Homo sapiens: one gene and its partners. The protein of the gene in region 1 purifies or fractionates together with the protein of each later gene. This does not show direct contact. Each region holds a gene or a part of one and is shown on either strand. Other genes may lie near its edges.

Region 1 (3,327 bases):
AAGCTACTATTTATGGGTATGTGTTGAGCCCCAGGCGCGGTGCTAAACCCTTTATCTGCATTATCTCACAGCAACCCTACAAGGTGAACAGCATTATTCCTTTCAAGGGCAAAGAAACTGAAGCATAGAGGGGTTAAGTAAATCATCTGAGGTCACTCAACTTGTACTTGGTAGAGTGAGAATTTGATCAGAAGCCCTTCGCTTCAGAGCTGTTAGGCTCATGGAACCCCTGCCTCCCATCTCCATTGGTCAGCCAGACCCCAGGTCCCACCACCTCATCCCACCATAGGACTGCCCCCTGCCTGCGTACTCTCTGTGCATAAAACACTACCTGGGAACTCCCTGACCTGCCCAAGTATAGCCATCAGCCTCTTTCCCCTCCTAAGCATTGGCCTCAGAGGTGAGATAAAAGGACAGAAACTCAAGAGACCTTTGAATGGGGGAGAATTTTTCATTTACCCAAAGCCCGGGGGCCTGGAGTGGGAGGCCACTTTGGGGCTGCCCCATCCCCTCTCTAGCTGCAGGGGGCACAGCTCAGGGGAGTGGTGGCCCCATCACCATCGCTTCTGAATGTTCTCCCTCCTGTATACCATTGCTCTCGGCTCAGGATCCTGATGACTTGGATCAAAGTGGCCTGTGGCTGGGGCAACTTCAACCTGGCAATTACTAAAAAATGGTAAAGGCCTAAGAGCAGCCCACAGCACAGTGCGAGGGGGACCTAATCTTAGCAGAAGAATGTCTATACCCTAAGTGACAGACAAAGAATACCAGAATCCACCTCTACTCCTCCCCAGCCGTCAATTGCAAGCTCGCAATCTGTCTGCTCCAGAAAAATCTCCCTGGACTCCCAGGATACAGCCTCTCCTGCTGTGACTCTCTGAGGTCCCTAATGAGCTCCTAGCCTGGATTTGCTGCATACCTGCCTGGCCCCAGCCCTGGAAGGTGAGCTCACTGAGAGCAGGGGTGCTTAGTGAAGTCCCACTCAAGGAGAGGGCTGAGAAGAGCTGGGATGTGGTCCTTGGTGCACCTAGAGTCCCTGCGTGTCCAGACAGGACCGTGGGACAAGCATCCAATGCGTACACCCCCCAGCCATTACTGAGGAGGCTGACCCAAGAGGGCATCTTGCACTGGCCCTGGGAAACTGAGGTCCAGGACTCTTGGGAAAGGCAAAGGGCATTACAGACACAACTGGAGTGAATTTAGGGAAAGCTCAGATGTCTCTTTAGTCTGCTTAAGGTCCTAGCCCTATGGTGTAGGAAACTCTTGACTCCAGAGGAACTTAAGGAACATGCCATAAACACAACCCACAGGCCAGGTCAGGGGCTGAAGAGAGAGTGGAAACAACAAACAGTGCACGCATCTCCCAGGTGGGGCTGATGGTGGCCGCAGTACTGGCAGCCTCATCATCACCACCATTGTCATCACTGCACAGACCCCTGAAACACCTAATTTCTAGTGGAGGAAATTAATGCTTAGAGAGGTTAACACCCTGGCCCAAAGCAGCTGGGATTCAAACCCAATTCTGACTCTAGAGTGGAAGCCCTTAGTCCCTCTTGCTCTGCAACATCTGATCTGAAAGATAGGCAGCACAGCTGTAGGACAGAGTGGCTGGCACAGAGGCCAGGCCAGGCAGGAATGGCTATTCAGAGGGGCCGTGGTTATGCAAGTAGCAAGTGAACCCAGCTGAGAAGCCAAAGATGCAACACCAGTGGGCATGACTGCTCCTGAAAGCAGTCAGTACTGCACTGGGGAGCCTCTATGTAGCCCCTGCTGCTGCATGCCCACGGTCACGGCCAGCAGCTCTCTGGGGTCTGAGGCCAACATTGTTAGCACCGTGTAACTGCAACGACAACAGCAGTTACCCAGTCACAGCTATCCCAGGGACGAGGGTGGAAGGGGCAGTTTTCTACTGCATGAGCCTTTTAAAAGACCCTTCAAAGCCACCTACTTTATAGACAGCTCCTCTTAACTGAAGACTCTCTGTGCCATGCCCCGGTGCTTTGCATTTTCTTGTCCCAGACTCTGATTCCATTTCACAGGATGGGGAAACAAGGCACCGAAGTGGGACCACAACTCAAATCCTGTGTGACTCCGGGAAATCCTGAGCTCTTAACCACTCTGCTTCTCTACCCTGGAGGGAGTAGGGCTGTCAGGCCACCCAAGCCTCAGAGGCAGACCTGGGTCTGACCTGCCTCAGCTGCTGCATGTGCCACCGCTGCCTCTGTCTGGAGGCTGCAGGGCTGTGTGTGGAGTGCTCTTGCAGGGCATCCACCTACACATTCCATTTTGCTACAAGCATTCTAACTGGCAGCAAGACATTTTGAGGCCCACCAGAAAACGTTAGGAAAGCCGTTACCTCCGCCATTCCTTCCTGGCAGCCTGCGCAGTCCAGAGCAGCCACAGTCCCATAGCAGGGTTTCTTCCTTAGGCTGTAGCTTCCTAGGACAGAGGGATGGATTTGTCAACAAAGGGTTGTCCTGGAAACAAATCCAGATTCATGTTCACCCACCAACAACCCTGAAATGCTTGCAAGGCCAGGGACATTCCGGTGGAACCGTCTGCTCTCTATTAACGGGACGGTAGGCAGGTGTGGGCACTGCAAGTCTAAAACATTTGATACTGACCTCTCTCCCCCACTTGCAGATCCTCAACATCTGGGTCCACCCTGCCAGCTTGGATTATAAAGTCCATGCTGGCTATTTGTAGAACAGCAGTTCTCAAAAGCTGCTAGACCTGCTGAATCAAACTGTTGTGTTTTGACAAGCTCTCCAGAATTCTGATGCAGGCTAAAGCTTGAGAACTATTGATGTAGAGGAATAGAAAAGAATATTTCCTCACTGAAAGTCACATACTCTTTTGTAAGGGTCCAAGGCAGAGGCAAGGAAAGCCTCAGGAGGGGTCTGTGTCAGAAAGCACTGGTCACAGGCAGGAGTGACTGGCACACTTTTGGTGTGTTCCAGGGAGACCCCTTGGGACCTCCCAGTCAGCATGGCATGGCATGGGCATGGGCCAGGCTACACTGTGTCTGCATCATACCACATCTCACCCAGCTTGTGTGGGATGTAGCTAACCGTTGTTGGAGACAGCTGCCTGGGCATGCAGCCCGGCTGCAGCTACAGAAGCCCTGCCCCAGGGCTAGCTCAGCTAGGCAGAACATCGGGCCACCTGACAACTGCTGTTTGCAGTAGCTCCACAGGCCCTCAGCCCAGCCCAGCTCCCTGTGCACGTGTGAGGCTGAGACAGGCAAGAGGGCACCTCACTGTAGGGACCTTGGAGCTGGCAGAGCATGGTCTTGGGATTCACATGCAAAATGCAACTTCTCACAGC
Region 2 (3,652 bases), on another chromosome or scaffold:
GCTGGCTTTCTGGGTGATTAAAGATATGTCAGCTCCGAGAAGAATGAGTTTATTTGAATCATTCAGAAAGTTACATTTAAAAGTAGGTAATTGTAGTTTGATGGAAGGTACAGTGTGAAACCCTAGACAGACTAAAGGTTAACTTTGAGGATTTCTTTCTCAGCCAGAGTGGTAATAGTATGCATTTGAGAGGGGAGGAGAGTAGAGTTCTAAGGATGTGGTCTTTGGAGACAGTTTCTTGGGTTCCAGTCCCTGAGCTACCAATTTGTGTCTGGGGTGTTATCCTCTTGATGTCTTAGCATCCCTATCTGTAAATTGGTGAGGATAATGATAACATCTGATAAGGTGGTTGTGAGGATTAAAGGAATTGATACATGTGAAATCCTTAGAACTGTACCTGGCAAAAAGTGTTTGATAAATGATTTTCAGTTATTGTGCCAATATTATTTTAGAGTTGATGTACTTTCTCATTAATGGAACCAAACACTTCTCAAGTTAAAATTACGTGCTTAGGACTGGTAAGTTACAAAAATGGTACCACACGTTTTATCTATTTCAATTTAGAAATGTCTGTTGATTAAATGTGTTCGCTTTAAACTACTGAAACAATGTAGACATTTATAAAATGAAAGCGTATTGATCCCTGTTATCTCATTCGCTACCTTTAACGGTTTGGTGTATATTCTTCCCCAAATTTTCAAATATATTCATATATGAATATGTATTTTTACATACATTTTATAAAAATGGGACCAAGTTATTTGGTTCTAACATGGCTTTTTTTTAAGGTCAATACAAAGATCTGTTTTATTAAAAAATAATTGATATTCCTTTAGGGCTCACTATATGCTTGGTACTCTTCTAAGTCATTATTTTATATAGATACTATAATATCGAGAGATGGAGAGATTAAGTAACAACTAGTTAGTGGTAGAGGAAGGATTTTAATTTGGGTACGTTAGCTTCAAAGTCCTGATCTCCCAGCCAGGGATCATTTTTGGTAAGGCCTGTGAGCTGGAAACGTTAACACTTTTAAAAGAGTTGTAAAACAATACCACCCCACTTCCCTGAAGAACATATAAGGGAGACTAGATACCGCCTGCCAAGCCTAAAATACTTACCATGTGGCCCTTTACAGAGAAAGTTTGCTGCCCCTTGCTCTAAGCCATCCAGCTGTACCTCTTTGGTGTAAGGGGGGTGCATAGTATTCCAGTTTATGAATGTGCATTACGCAGCAAACCAATCTGTTGTGATTGACATTGTTTTCTCTCCTGAAAAGAAGTGAACATCCTTATGTATCTTTGAACATTTGTGTGACAATTTTCTATAGAGTTGGCTCTTTCAAGATTATGAACATTTCTAGTTTTAATAGGTGTTGTCAAGTTATATTAATTTTTAGTTAAAACAACAACTGTATTGAAGTATAATTTACATACAATAAAAAGCACACATTTGAAGGGTATGATTTGAGGAGTTTTGACAAATGTATGCACCTGCACCGCTGCCTGGATCAAGATCTATAATGGTTGCCATCATCTCAGAGTCCTTTCATCCTCTTTTACAGTCATTCTCTCAACTTTTTTTTTTTTCCCTCCAAGATGGAGTCTTGCTCTGTCACCCAGGCTGGAGTGCAATGGCATGATCTCGGCTCACTGCAACCTCCGCCTCCTGGGTTCAAGCAATTCTCCTGCCTCAGTCTCCCGAGTAGCTGGGATTACAGGCGTCTGCCACCACACCCAGCTAATTTTTGTAGTTTTAGGCGAGATCTCAGCTCACTGCAACCTTGACCTCCTGGGCTCAATCGAACCTCTCACCTCAGCCTCCCAAGTAGCTAGGACCACAGGCATGTACCACCATGCCCAGCTAACATTTATTATTAATATTTTTTTGTAGAGATGGGGTTTTCCTGTGTCGCCCAGGATGGTTTCCAACTCCTGGGCTCAAATGATTCTGCCTTGGCCTCCCAAAGTGTTGGGATTACAGGCATGAGCCGCGGCACCTGACTTGTAGTAAACTCTCTGAATTAATATTCCATTGTAGGCATGTGCTACAGTTTTTAAATTCATTTACCCATGGATGGACACATAGGACTGTTGTCAGCTGTTGATAAAGCTGCTATCACCATTTGTATGTCTTTCCTGGACATGTTTTAGTGGTAAATATTGATTTTACTTTGTAAGAAACCGTTAAACTCTTTTCCAAAATAGTTGTACCATTTTAAATTGAAAGTTACAGTTGTAACTGTGCAGGAGTTACAGTTTCTTCACATTTTCATTGACACTTCGTGTTGCCAGTCTTTTAAATTTTGGCCATCAAATGAGTATTAAGTATCTCATTGTGGGTTTGTGTTTCTCAGATGATCAATGATGTTGGAACATCTTTTCATATGCTTATTGGCCATTTGTGTACTTTTTTTGGTTCAAGCCTTTTGTCCCTTTAAAAAATTGGATTGTTTGTCTGGTTGAGTGGCAAGAGGTCTTTATATGTTCTGGGTACATAGTCACATTATCTGTCAGATTGTGTTGCAAATATTTTATTGTTCATTTTTGTTTGATTTTGTGTATTTTTAATACTATAAAGATCAAGTTAAAACTTTAATATGGGAAGCATAATCAGATAAATTATGTGAAACAAATTGTCCTTAATTCACGAGTCATTTAATTAGTGTAACAAAATGTTATGCATTTGCAGAAACTTGTAAACTAAAAGGATATTATTCATATGCTGTTAGGTGTATGGATGATAATTTTTTTTAATTAAACTAGTTTTGAAAATTATTGTATTTAGTAATTCTCTTCATTTTGCATAATTCAAACCTTTTCATTTATTAGTGAGTTAAGCCTTAAATTTTTTCTTCAAAGGATAAATGAGAATATTAAAAGTAAAAAGTGACCTTGATCTTAGAATGGGGTATGTAGAAATGATGATTGCCAAACTTAGTTTCCCTACTTTGACAATCAAGTAAAATTTTTTTTTTTTTTTTTTGAGACGGAGTCTTGCTCTGTCCCCCAGGCTGGAGTGCGGTGGCGCGATCTCGGCTCACTGCAAGCTCTGCCTCCTGGGTTCACGCTGTTCTCCTGCCTAAGCCTCCCGTAAATTTTTTTATTATAGAAATGGATGGCTTTTCAGATTATATATACTTGGTTTCTATACACTATTTTATTTTTGTAAAGTAGCAGTTCTTTTGCTCAACACCTGAATTGCCCCCACAATAAATTTTTAGTTTTTCTTCAATATTCAAGTAATACATAACTTTTCCTTTTCCTGTTTAACAAAGAAAAAAATATATAAAGCAAGCTGTTGGACCTCCATTGGGTGTTGTTTACCACCACTGTAGGTGATCGTGGCATTGTCCACCTCAGTCTTCTCATGGCTGTGGATTCAAGTTAAGAAATTCCTGAAGGTAGCATTCCAGGTAGTCTGTAGAACAGCCCAAACTCTCTGAATTAGTATTATCTCTGATAGGTGTTTTTTTTTTCTTTGCTTTTTTATTTGAGACGGGGTTTTGCTCTGTCACCCAGCCTGGATTTCAGTGGCACAATCTTGGCTTACTGCAACCTCCACCTCCTGGGCTGAAACAATCCTCCCACATCAGTCTCCTGAGTAGCTGGGACCACAGGCACATGCCACCATGCCCAGCTAATTTTTTATA
Region 3 (3,652 bases), on another chromosome or scaffold:
ATAGCTGTCCCAAACTCCTGGGCTCAAGCAATCTGTCTGCTTCAGCTTCCCAAAGTGTTAGGATTACAGGCGTGAGCTACTGCGCCTGACACTTCATGTTATTATCTTTATTTATTTATTTTATTATTATTGTTTTTTTTTGAGACAGACTTGTCACCCAGGCTGGAGTGCAGTGGCGTGATCTTGGCTCACTGCAAGCTCTGCCTCCTGGGTTCACGCCATTTTCCTGCCTCAGCCTCCCGAGTAGCTGGGACTACAGGCCATCGCCACCATGCCTGGCTAATTTTTTTTTTTTTGTATTTTTAGTAGAGACGGGATTTCACTGTGTTAGCCAGGATGGTCTTGATCGCCTGACCTTGTGATCCGCTCACCTCCTCCTTCCAAAGTGCTGGGATTACAGGCGTGAGCCGCCGCACTCGGCCTATTTATTTATTTATTTATTATATTTTTTGAGACAGAGTCTTGCTCTGTGGCCCAGCCTGGAGTGCAGTGGTATGATCTAAGCTCACTGCAACCTCCGCCTCTCAGGCTCAAGTGATTCTCTGCCTCAGCCTCCAGAGTAGCTGGGATTACAGGCGTGTGCCACCACGCCTGCCTAATTTTTTTTTTTGAAATGGAGTCTCGTTCTGTCGCCCAGGCTGGAGTGCAGTGGCGCAATCTCAGCTTGCTGCAACCTCCGCCGCCCGGGTTCAAGCAATTCTCCTGCTTCAGCTTCCCGAGTAGCTGGGATTACAGGCACCTGCCACCATGCCCGGCTAATTTTTGCATTTTTAGTAGAGACGGGGTTTCTCCATGCTGGCCAGACTGGTCTTGAACTCCCGACCTCAGGTGATCCGCCTGCCTTGGCCTCCCAAAGTGCTGGGATTATAGGCGTGAGCCACCGCGCCCGGCCTGATGCCTGGCTAATTTTTTTTTTTTTTTTTAGTAGAGACGGGTTTCGCCATGTTGGCCTGGCTGGTCTTGAGCTCCTGGCCTCAAGCGATCTGCCTGCCTCAGCTTCCCAAAGTGCTGGGATTACAGGCGTGAGCCACTGCACCCGGCCAACACTCTATGTTAATTATTAACTGACTGAATTCTGGTGTTTGAGCTCTAGGAAAGTATAAATTAGAGATAATTTTTGGTCAGAGACTGGTACAGTAGAGGCTCTGAAAACGTGTGATCTGTGGCATACCTAGAGGTCTGGTGTGAAACAAACGGTATTGCCAGTTTTTGAGAGGAAGTGAGGAGGGTTGCCTTTTCTGGCTCTGAGGGTTTTCTCTCCTGGACTTGCAGTGTGGACAAGAAGGGCCACGTCCACTACTTGATCAAGTGGCGGGACTTACCTTACGATCAGGCTTCTTGGGAGAGTGAGGATGTGGAGATCCAGGATTACGACCTGTTCAAGCAGAGCTATTGGAATCACAGGTGAGTGATTTTGGGTGAGGCATAGAGTTGTTTCTTTTTTTTTTTTTTTGAGATGGAGTCTTGCTCTGTCACCAAGCTGTAGTGCAGTGGCGTGATCTTGACTCACTGCAACCTCCGACTTCCTGGTTCAAACGATTCTCCTGCCTTAGCCTCCTGAGTAGCTGGGATTATTTGCATACGCCACCACACCTAGCTGATTTTTTTTTTTTTTTTTTTTGAGACGAAGTCTTGCTCTTGTCCCCCAGGCTGGAGTGCAATGGTGCGATCTTGGCTCGCTGCAGCCTCCGCCTCCTGGGTTCAAGCAATTCTCCTGCCTCAGTCTCCCGAGTAGCTGAGATTACAGGCGTCTGCCACCATGCCCAGCTAATTTTTGTATTTTTAGTAGAGACGGGGTTTCACCATGTTGACCAGGCTGGTCTCGATCTCCTGACCTCAGGTGATCCGCCCGTCTCAGCCTCCCAAAGTGCTGGCCTCCCAAAATGCTGGGATTACAGGTGTGAGCCACTGTGCCTGGCCAAGTTGTTTCTTCTATAGAAAAGGATTTTGGGCAGCTGTGTGATGTCTTTCTTCTTTAGGGAGTTAATGAGGGGTGAGGAAGGCCGACCAGGCAAGAAGCTCAAGAAGGTGAAGCTTCGGAAGTTGGAGAGGCCTCCAGAAACGCCAACAGTTGATGTGAGTGGGGGTGGAAGGGACTGTAGTTTGTTGGGTAGGACAATGTATCTTTGCTGCAGTCTAATGATGGTACTCTTAAGTAATGAAATGCAGATAGTAACTTTGTAGCTGAGATTACTTCACAAAGTCGGCTTCCCCACTTCTCCACATCTCTATATATCAGAAAGCACTAGGATTACTTTCTTCTTTTGTCATCAGAAAAAAAAAAAGGAGGTATATTTTGAATGATTGAAGAAGTGTTGTCTGGGGGGAGGGGCCACATAGCCTAGCTTTTATGCACTTACATAGGAATCTGGCTTAATTCAGGCTCAGTTCCTCTGGGTTTTGTTTGTACAGTGTAATTTGAGGGTGATTAAAGTTAAAAAGATGAATCTAAGAGGGACATAACGATTATTTACCTGGTGGATCCTGACTAGTAGAATTATTGTATTGGTAGGGAGTCTGTGACGTGCTTTTCCTCAGTGATCTGTAGGATCAAAATCAGGTCTGGTTAAGCCCTGTTTCCTGGAGGACCCTAAACTGAACATGAAATTGCAGTAATCATAGGGGATCTCTTCCCTCCGAATTTTCCGGAGCTCTTCCCCAAGAGGATCCGTGAAGACTAGTGAGGAGGAAGCAGCTGCTCTATTAGGGGAGGAGGGGAGTTCCTTGCCAGCTCTTGACTTCTCTGTTTCATCCTTCAGCCAACAGTGAAGTATGAGCGACAGCCAGAGTACCTGGATGCTACAGGTGGAACCCTGCACCCCTATCAAATGGAGGGCCTGAATTGGTTGCGCTTCTCCTGGGCTCAGGGCACTGACACCATCTTGGCTGATGAGATGGGCCTTGGGAAAACTGTACAGACAGCAGTCTTCCTGTATTCCCTTTACAAGGAGGTAAGGAAATCTGGGGTGGATAGTTTTTTGTGTGGGTGTTTTGTGTTTGAAGCCTTAACTTACACTGAGTAGAGAGATAAGGGAATAAAAAAATTGGTCTCTGACCTTCAAGAACACTGTGGATAATAGATAAACACATGTACACATGTGTTTAGTAGATAGTAGATAAATGTGATAGTGGATAAACACATGTACACAGCGGAAGATTTGAGGGCATGGAGCCCTGGGTAGGATTAGCAGTGGATCCATAGAGTATCAGTTCTAGGGGAATGATTGTGTGTTGAGGGAAGTAGAATTATGAGTAGAATTAGTATGGAAAGGCTTGGCTGGACGCAGTGGCTCATACCTGTAATCCCAGCACTTTGGAAGCCCGAGGTTGGTGGATCACCTGAGGTCAGGAGTTCGAGACCAGCCTGACCAACATGGCGAAACCCCGTCTCTACTAAAAATACAAAATTAGCCGGATGTGGTGGTGCACGCCTGTAATCCCAGCTACTTGGGAGGCTGAGGCAGGAGAATCGCTTGAACCCGGGAGGTGGAGGTTGCAGTGAGCTGAGATTGCGCCATTGCACTCCAGCCTGGGCAACAAGAGTGAAACTCCGTCTCAGAAAAAAAGTATATAAAGACTTAATGGGAGAGGTAAGACTTGTAGTTATGGTGGGACCTTGGGTTTTTGGAAAGGAGTGGGCTGGGCACTTGTA

What was found.
Region 2: the proteins of MACROH2A1 (region 1) and EZH2 purify together in Homo sapiens (affinity purification with mass spectrometry; 3 studies listed by BioGRID and IntAct, with this or other methods). This does not show direct contact.
Region 3: the proteins of MACROH2A1 (region 1) and CHD4 purify together in Homo sapiens (affinity purification with mass spectrometry; 2 studies listed by BioGRID). This does not show direct contact.

Annotation. Positions count from the first base shown.
Region 1 is NC_000005.10:135,337,043-135,340,369, reverse strand, and holds part of MACROH2A1 (core histone macro-H2A.1), read left to right. Parts: intron 1-794; exon of another isoform or gene 795-942; intron 943-2,356; exon of another isoform or gene 2,357-2,439; intron 2,440-3,327. UniProt on the Homo sapiens protein: Variant histone H2A which replaces conventional H2A in a subset of nucleosomes where it represses transcription. Nucleosomes wrap and compact DNA into chromatin, limiting DNA accessibility to the cellular machineries which require DNA as a template.
Region 2 is NC_000007.14:148,874,230-148,877,881, reverse strand, and holds part of EZH2 (histone-lysine N-methyltransferase EZH2), read left to right. Parts: intron 1-3,652. UniProt on the Homo sapiens protein: Polycomb group (PcG) protein. Catalytic subunit of the PRC2/EED-EZH2 complex, which methylates 'Lys-9' (H3K9me) and 'Lys-27' (H3K27me) of histone H3, leading to transcriptional repression of the affected target gene.
Region 3 is NC_000012.12:6,593,758-6,597,409, reverse strand, and holds part of CHD4 (chromodomain-helicase-DNA-binding protein 4), read left to right. Parts: intron 1-1,272; coding exon 1,273-1,404; intron 1,405-1,979; coding exon 1,980-2,076; intron 2,077-2,759; coding exon 2,760-2,951; intron 2,952-3,652. UniProt on the Homo sapiens protein: ATP-dependent chromatin-remodeling factor that binds and distorts nucleosomal DNA. Acts as a component of the histone deacetylase NuRD complex which participates in the remodeling of chromatin.